Linked DNA regions of Homo sapiens: region 2 is linked to region 1. The links come from fine-mapping of genetic effects on gene expression. A gene starts in region 1. The other region holds a variant in brackets. All regions are shown on one strand. Distances are from middle to middle. Region 1 holds the start of ID2 (inhibitor of DNA binding 2). Region 2 overlaps LOC105373411 (a long non-coding RNA gene).

Region 1 (4,371 bases):
CACTAGTAACTTAGGCCTCGTTTAAATCATTAACTTATACAGCTTCGTAATCCCCTTTAAATGATCTTTAAATGAATGTAAAACTGGGTAGCGTGCCAATAGAATCGAATTCAACACAGCCAGGCAGACTGGACTCTGACATGGCAGCTAAAGAAAGAAACACCAGAAAACTTTCACCATATTTAGCCATTTTACTACATCAGGGTACAAAAATGATCATGGGAGAAGGCACTGCCTTAATCAACTTTGCAAAGTGTAAAGTGAAACCGCACAATGCTCATTACCGCCCAACCCAGAGCCTGGCTGTGGGGATAATGAGGCTGGCACGGATGTTAACATACGGTGTCCTTGGAAAAAGCTAGGAATGCGTCAGTATCGAAGAGCTGCAATGTCCAAGAATCATAAGTAATAATTTGAGAATCCCAAAGATGTTTGTTTACATTGGCTATTATTGTAAAATAGTCAAAGTATAACATCATGAACCAAAATAGTGTCAAAACAAAATCTGTTCCACTGTGGCACGTATGTGACAGAAACACATGCACACAAAGTACATCAAAAGGCTCGAACTGTGGGAGGACTCGGATAGTAAATCACTTCCAGACTTAATATCAGAAGAGATACGGTGCATCCAACGCTGTCAGGGACAGAGTCGCAGGCAGCATTGCCTGGCCTGGGGAAGGCCCTCCGCAAACTTCTGGCTGGACAGGAAACAGTTTACCTCCTTCCTCCAAACTGAGGGGGCTGAATTTCAGGAAGGTGAGCTCCACCTCAGTGCCACCCACTCTGCCTCCCTGGAGAGGCGTCATGGGGCGCATAGCTGTCACGTGACGGTCAGAGACTGCTGGCCCCACCAGCTGAGAAATTAATCATTAATTGAAGGAAAAAACACTGTTTCCCCATTATCGAGCTTTTCTTTCAGCTTCTAGGCCTGCCCCTTCCGCTTTCTGAAATGCAAAGGAGGTAGAGATTGAGGCAGAAAGTAAATAAGATTTGAATATTGCCTTTCCTGGAGTTTTCTAGTTCATTGTTTTCTGGAGCAAATATTTTCAAAAACAAGAAACTGACACACTGTGGTCAAAACAGAATTCTAGATAAGCTACAATTATGTGAAAATTAAGGTATTTAAGTAAATAGCTGCAAACTTTTTAAAACTTAGACTGAAAGAACGAGTTCTTAAAAGATTTTCAGCCAAAAAAAAAAAAAAAAACCTTGAACCCGTATTCAGTACTAGTGCTGAAAAGATTCCAAACCTCATATGACAGAATATTTTTTTTTCCTTAGTGTGAAGATGTCTATCAATGGCTAGGGCCACCTATCTGTCACAAAGCTTTGGAACTCCTCTAGGTGTTGGAATGTGACACCAGAAATCACAATTAGTGCATAATTAATCACATTACTTTGCCACCTACACGGAAGGGCACAGACCGGCAGCCTTTCAAGGGCAGTGTATGTAAATGTAGTTTCAATATGCAAATTCTCCTAATTATTTCCGATTAATACGATCATTATAATAGCCCTGCCTCCTTCTTGAAAAGGAACCCTGAAAGCGCCCTGCCTGTGAGAGCTCCTTAGCGACCGGTGAGGTTGGGCATGGTTTGCAATAAGTACTCATTTTCTTGAGTTTACAGTAATGCCTCCCGCGCTGCTCCGGGTTGCAAAAGCCCACACTAAGCCTGTCGTCGAATGCGTGCGTGGGTGGTTTGTTTGTGTTAACATAACTTTTCCTTATCTGAAGAGACGAACTCACTCTACAAACGTGACTCTTCAGTGACAACCTAATTTGCGTTTTCACTTTCTTCTGAAATGCTTTCTATCTTTCCTCACGCTCTCCCTCCGATGGGTTGCAGTGAACTGTGGCTTCCCCCCTGCGGTGCTGAACTCGCCCGTGTAGCTGTGATTTTAGAGCTGCCGACAGCTCTAAGGTGTGTAGGGCTTGGTCTGGGAACACCCCCAGGGCAAGGGTCCCGCCGCGCGCTTGGAATTAGAATTAAGAATGCATATTTAGGCGCCCAGGGTCTGCCCCCTTCTCCCTCCTCCTTCCCCTCCCCCTTCCCCTCCCCCTTCCCCTCCCCCATCTTCCCTTCTCTTCCTCCTCCCTCCTCCTCTCCCTCCTCCCGCCTCCCTCCTCCCCGCCCCCCGCCCGCCGCTCCCCGCCCCCCGCCCCCCGCCAGCCCCGCACTTACTGTACTGTACTCTATTTACCACCCCAGCTGGGCTCGCGCCCCGCCCACCCCGCGGGGATTGGCTGCGAACGCGGAAGAACCAAGCCCACGCCCCGCGCCCGCGCCCACCAATGGAAGCGCCCGCTCGTCTTGATAGACGTGCCACCTTCCGCCAATGGGGACGAAGGGAAGCTCCAGCGTGTGGCCCCGGCGAGTGCGGATAAAAGCCGCCCCGCCGGGCTCGGGCTTCATTCTGAGCCGAGCCCGGTGCCAAGCGCAGCTAGCTCAGCAGGCGGCAGCGGCGGCCTGAGCTTCAGGGCAGCCAGCTCCCTCCCGGTCTCGCCTTCCCTCGCGGTCAGCATGAAAGCCTTCAGTCCCGTGAGGTCCGTTAGGAAAAACAGCCTGTCGGACCACAGCCTGGGCATCTCCCGGAGCAAAACCCCTGTGGACGACCCGATGAGCCTGCTATACAACATGAACGACTGCTACTCCAAGCTCAAGGAGCTGGTGCCCAGCATCCCCCAGAACAAGAAGGTGAGCAAGATGGAAATCCTGCAGCACGTCATCGACTACATCTTGGACCTGCAGATCGCCCTGGACTCGCATCCCACTATTGTCAGCCTGCATCACCAGAGACCCGGGCAGAACCAGGCGTCCAGGACGCCGCTGACCACCCTCAACACGGATATCAGCATCCTGTCCTTGCAGGTAAGACCTGCTCCGGGGTCCCCGCCCCGCCGCCGCACACTCCCGCGGTCGTCTGGGCTGTCACTAGGAGATCCGTAGCCCAGACGGTGACTTTCGTATGAGCTATTTAACTTTATTTTCTTCAGAATCTGCTGTAGATTGAGCTGTGCGTGAAATTGCTAGTAAGTTCTGACATGTTAATGCGTCTGTCTTTAAATCTGAATTGTTACCATAAACGTGTTTAATGGAACTTGCTGGTCTGTGGACTACAAAAAAAAAAAAAAAAAAAAAAAAACCCTTTCTACTTAACATTGTCTTAACCTCGTACTCTTTATCCTCTTTCTTTCCAGGCTTCTGAATTCCCTTCTGAGTTAATGTCAAATGACAGCAAAGCACTGTGTGGCTGAATAAGCGGTGAGTGTTTGCTTGTGCCACCCGTGGGTAAACTGCCCCTCGGTGTGTGTGCGCGCGCGCGCATGTGTTTTTGCTTGTGTATCTATAAAATGTCTGATTTGGTAAATGCATGCTTACTTCGCGGTGTTACCCGTACTACATTGTCTCACTAGACATGAAGGAGCTTGTAGCTTTGGGTGCTCGAGATCACAGAACATTTTCCTTTAAAAGGAAATGATGCCAATAACTTACTACGAAGGCGGCCGAGGAACGTGTGTATTGGCTTTGTAGCAAATGTAATGCCCTGGATCTTCCTACGAGTCCTCTGGTACTATGAGGTACTAACCTCCACTGTAATTAATCTTACCGCCACAAATTCCATAGTGATCCTCCTTCCCTAAAACTATAGTCCTCTGGGATTCTCTGGGCTAGTTGAGGATTGCTACCCTGTGCCTTCAACCCTGTGATGTGGGATCCCAGACTTCCCTATCTGTTAACTAAAGGGCTGTTTTCAATCAAATAATTGTTACGAGAAGCAGACTGGCGCCTGTAGCACTGCTGTTGGAGATCCAAATAGGAGATTGGGTTGGGAAGTTTTTCCCTTGAGTCTCTGCTATTTTAATGTTTAATTTGCGCTGTCGAGGCGAGTGTGTGTGTTGCATCTGGACGCCAGGGTTTGCCCAATCTTTGAGTGTTTGGTTAAATGTTCAAACTGTGGCTTCCTCCCGGCGCCAGTCGCCCGCCTCTGCCCTTAGGTTACATTCTCTTAAACATGCCTTTCTCCCCCACTCTTTCGCAGGTGTTCATGATTTCTTTTATTCTTTGCACAACAACAACAACAACAAATTCACGGAATCTTTTAAGTGCTGAACTTATTTTTCAACCATTTCACAAGGAGGACAAGTTGAATGGACCTTTTTAAAAAGAAAAAAAAAATGGAAGGAAAACTAAGAATGATCATCTTCCCAGGGTGTTCTCTTACTTGGACTGTGATATTCGTTATTTATGAAAAAGACTTTTAAATGCCCTTTCTGCAGTTGGAAGGTTTTCTTTATATACTATTCCCACCATGGGGAGCGAAAACGTTAAAATCACAAGGAATTGCCCAATCTAAGCAGACTTTGCC
Region 2 (4,427 bases), 33 kb before region 1:
GCACTACCATCACACCAGCTGCTGCAGGGAGGGTGCAGGTAGGAGGTGGACAGGGCCCCCCACAGCCCACTGCCCTGGGGGTGGCTGCAAGGGGCCGAGCCCAATCCCGTTCAGGAGGGGGAGCAGTGCAGCAGGGGAGCAGCATGGCTGGGCAGAAAGGGGCCCCAGTGCAGAGCTGGGGCTGCACTTTGGGGATCCAGGACAGGAAGTGGAAGTGGCAACCACTTTTGGGACCTGGCCAGTGGCACAGCCACTGTGCCCACACCGCCTAGGGTGCCAGGTTCCTGCACTTCAGAAGAAGGCTCTACACAGGCCATCCAGGGCCGGGTCCCTGGGGTCTGCCCTGAGTCAAGATGGCTGCCAAGCTTGCCACTTCTGATGGCCGAGCCCAGGGCCCGAGATCCACTCCATCCCAGGCCATCCTGGAGCACAAGGGCAATGGGGAGAGCTCATGGAGATGTCGCCCCTGCCCCGGACACTGGCTTGGGGCCCAGCAAGGATCAGGAGCCCCCAGCCCATGCTGCAAGGGGGCACAGCTGGGGCTGCATGCTCCATGGAGCCAGCAGGAGCCAGGAGCAGGCAGCAGCCCCGTCCTCACAGGCATGGCTGCAGCTGCCCAAGCCAGGCAGTAGACCTGGGCCTCCCGTGGTCTTGGAGGGCCAGGAACAGGCAGGAGCCCTGCCCTCCCAGGTGCCACTGCAGCCACCCAAACCAGCGGCTTCAGCCTCAGGCATCTCTGCACTCTTGGGGACCTGGGAAGGCCCTCCTGCCCTTGCAGGCTCAGAAGTGCCTGCTCCAGCTGCCTGGCTTCTCCCTGCTATTGATACCTGCTCCGATCTTGGAGCAAAGTCTGGGCCAAGCTGGGGTGCCATGAACAGCAGCAGGAAGCAGACAGATTCCTGGGTGGAAGGAGGCAGGTCCCTGGAAAGACCCCATCTTCAGGCCAAGGGCTGCCAGATCCCTGCACCAGAGTGGAGGAATGTGGTGCCTTTTTTGACCCCACCCATGGCCATGCATGAACCAATCAGCATGTACCTCCTCCCCTCTGAGGTCCATAAAAGCCCCAGGCTCAGCCAGAGCAGGGTAGAGGACAGAGGATGGAAAGATGACTGGGCACTGGAGGACCAACTGCAGAGATGATCTACCCTCTCTGCTGAGAGCTGGAAAGTCAATGGGGACCTGCCTGCAGAGAGGAACCACCCTCTCCAGGGCCTCCTTTCTGCTGCTTGCTGAACACTGGACAAGACTACCTGCCTACAGAAGGAACTGCCCCCTGCAGCCTCCTCAGAGCTGCTCTAACACTCAATAAAGCTTCTCTTTGTCTTGCTCACCCTCCACTTGTCTGCATACCTCATTCTTCCTGGATACAGGACAAGAACTTGGGCAAAGGCGCCACCAGCCACAGAGGTTTCTGGCCAGAAAAGCAACCCCCTAAAAGATCCTGTAACACAGTGAGGGCCCTGCCTTGACTTCAGAGCCACTGCCTCCTAAGTGGCCTAGAAGCTTCTTGGGGACACATTTTCCTCCAGGGGATGAGGTTCACTGATGCCTGTTCTGGGTCTCTCCACCTTTACCCTGCACGTATCCTTCCTTCCATGGAACTTCCTTCCATGAGCTTCCTTCCAGTCACTCATGTCCTGCACAGCGAGGCAGTAGGCCTATAAGTAGAAGTTGGTGCACAGCACCCCTTGTGCACATGTGAGGGGCATTTGCTGGGGGACATGGCCCCATGCAACTCCACAACTCCCCTGTTCCCCATGAAAAACCCAAAATGTGCACCCTCATCTCAGACCTCCCCTTAGGACCCCAAATTCTCTCTGGTGAAATTGTCAGCCACCTTCCTCTGGAAATCCCCTTTCCAAAGATCCCCTTTGTGGGCTTAGCTGTCAGAAGCATAGCTTTGCCCTTGCTCCCGTCGCAGGGGGGTCCACATCCCCTGAATCTGGGCTGGCCTGTGGCTGCTATAGCTGCTGCAATTGAGCAAAGTGAGGCAGTGGGATGACGGCAGCCTCCACCTTTGCCATCTTGGAAGACAGGTGCCACGTACGGAAACCCAGGGTGGACTCGGGATGATAAAAGTCCACACAAAGAGCCCCCTTTATGGCCTTTATGGCCCGGCTCCCCAGCAGCAGCCTTGAGGCCCCCAGAGGCCTCTTGGTCTCTAGCAGGTCAGGCTGTCCCGAATTGCTGACCCACACACCAACCCCTGAAGCGGCTGTTATGCCAGGCTGTTACATTTTGGGCAGGGGGTGGGGGCTCTGTCATACAGTAACGGATAACTCAACCATCCTTGGCAGGCCCCAATCATCTCTTGGATTCCAATTTGCCAGTGTTTGTGTTTTGGTTTTCGCTTTCCCCATTTTATGACCTCCCTAAATCATTGCTCACTGCTTCCCTGAAGTCCAGCATATAATAGTCAATCTGTGCACTGGAGTCTCAGAATAAAACCCATTTATCTTCCTTAAGCATTCCAGAGCAGTAAAACTAAAAATATTAGCAAGTTACTTTGGCTAGAATTACCAATAGTCTTCCCATAACATTTAACTTCCTATTTCTTTAACCTGAGTTTAAAGAAAACATATACATATATGTTTATATATAAATGTATATATTTATATGTATA[T/TAAATTAA]AAATTATAATTTGTACATAATATATATTTATTTTATACATAACATATATTTTACATGTAACATAAATTATACATTGATACATTATATATGTGTACATATATGTGTATGTATGAGCGTATAACGTATGTGTGTATATGTGTATAGGTATAATGTGCATATATATGTGCATATATTATATATGCATGTGTGTATATATGTATGTGTATAACATGTATATATATATGTGTGTAGGTATAACGTGTATATATATACATGTGCATATATGTATGATTGTATAACATGTGTACATTATGTGTATATATTTATGTGTATATGTATAACATGTGTATATATTATATATGCATGTGTGTATGTATATGTGTGTATATATTACATGTGTGTAACATGTGTATATATTATATGTATGACATGTGTATATTATATATGTGTCTATATACTATATGTGTATAACGTGTATATATATGTATATTATACATGCATGTGTATATATGTGTATGTGTATATTATTTCTATATATGTGTATATGTACGTGTATATGTGCACATGTGTATATATGTATGAGTATAACGTGTATATGTGTGTATATAACATGTGTATATGTATGTGTATATATGTATATATTATATGTGTGTACGTATGTGTATGTGTGTATATGTGTGTATGTATGTGTATGTGCGTATATGTGATTATATGCATATGTGTATGTGTATAGCATGTGTATTACATATGTGTGTATATGTGTATAACTTGTGTGTATAGATGTATATATTACATATACGCATGTGTATATATGTATGTGTATATTACATGTGTATATGTATAACGTGTATATATGTGTATATATTATATATGCATGTGTATATGTATGTGTATAATGTGTATATTGTGTGTATATAATATATATGTCTAATATGTGTGTATATATATTATATATGTGCATGCACACACACACACACACACACACAGATCACTCTGAAGATCTACTTTTTAGGGAAATGTCACATAATCACCACTTTCCTCCTTTCTGTCAAAATATCTCCCCCATCCAGGCACTGGGTGCCTTAAGATGCCACCCCTCACTCACTCCCCTCGGCGCACTCCTTCCCTCAGGTCCCAGCCTTTCTTGGCGGCTCCTCCTTCCTGTCCCATGTGACAGCACAACTCCTTTATCTCCAATCCAGTTCACCCCAGCAGCTGGTCACCAATATTTGTTGAATGAGCTCTGCAGGGGGTGGGGAAGAGGAGGTGCCCTCCAAGAACATCCCCTAGCTCCTTCCCCTGCTCCCCGTCCAGCCACAAGACTTCCTATTTGACCTTGGTTTTCCAAATTTCCTGCAGTCTCAGTGGTAACCTTTCCACTCCTCCCTGGCCCCACCACAAGCAGCCAACCAGAGACTGGCAATTGGTGGACCCGTGGAAGGGATCCATGAAGGGACCCATGGAAGGTCCAGGAAACACAGAATAGAGGAGAGGACACACCTTTGGCCAGTTACTTGTTTCAAACTCATGGTATATTAATACTTAGAAAAATCTTTTAAGCATCCAATAACACTATTTTGATCATTCAATGGATGCCCCTCATGACCAACATACCCACACACTAAGAAAATCATGCATGGCATAAATAAAGCATGGGGTCTTGAAGAGCTTGCCTTCTGGTGAGGAAATGGCTGCAGACGAGCCGTGGGGAATGGTACCAAGCTGAGCCACTGGGGCTGGGCAGAGGGGCACACAGATGCAGTGGGAGCACGGAGGTCCTCAGAGGAGCAATTAGAAAGGCTACTAGCAAAGGGCACATTTGAA

Evidence for each region. PIP is the estimated chance that this variant, and not a neighbour inherited with it, causes the effect.
Region 2: its variant is the best candidate, but not a certain one, in a credible set for the expression of ID2 in whole blood (INTERVAL, PIP 0.64).

Annotation. Positions count from the first base shown.
Region 1 is chr2:8,679,641-8,684,011 of GRCh38, forward strand. It overlaps ID2 (inhibitor of DNA binding 2), which reads left to right and starts at 2,416. Exons shown (of 3, transcript NM_002166.5): 1 at 2,416-2,873; 2 at 3,203-3,266; 3 at 4,045-4,371. The coding sequence starts at 2,526. The coding sequence ends at 3,259. It overlaps ID2-AS1 (ID2 antisense RNA 1), which reads right to left and starts at 2,223. Exons shown (of 4, transcript NR_110154.1): 1 at 2,187-2,223. RefSeq lists enhancers at 1,615-2,118, 2,606-2,655.
Region 2 is chr2:8,646,643-8,651,069 of GRCh38, forward strand. All of the region lies in intron 1 of LOC105373411 (a long non-coding RNA gene), which reads right to left. Among named protein-coding and RNA genes, the nearest start is that of ID2-AS1, 33 kb to the right of the region's middle. The variant T/TAAATTAA (reference allele first, on the strand shown) is at 2,624.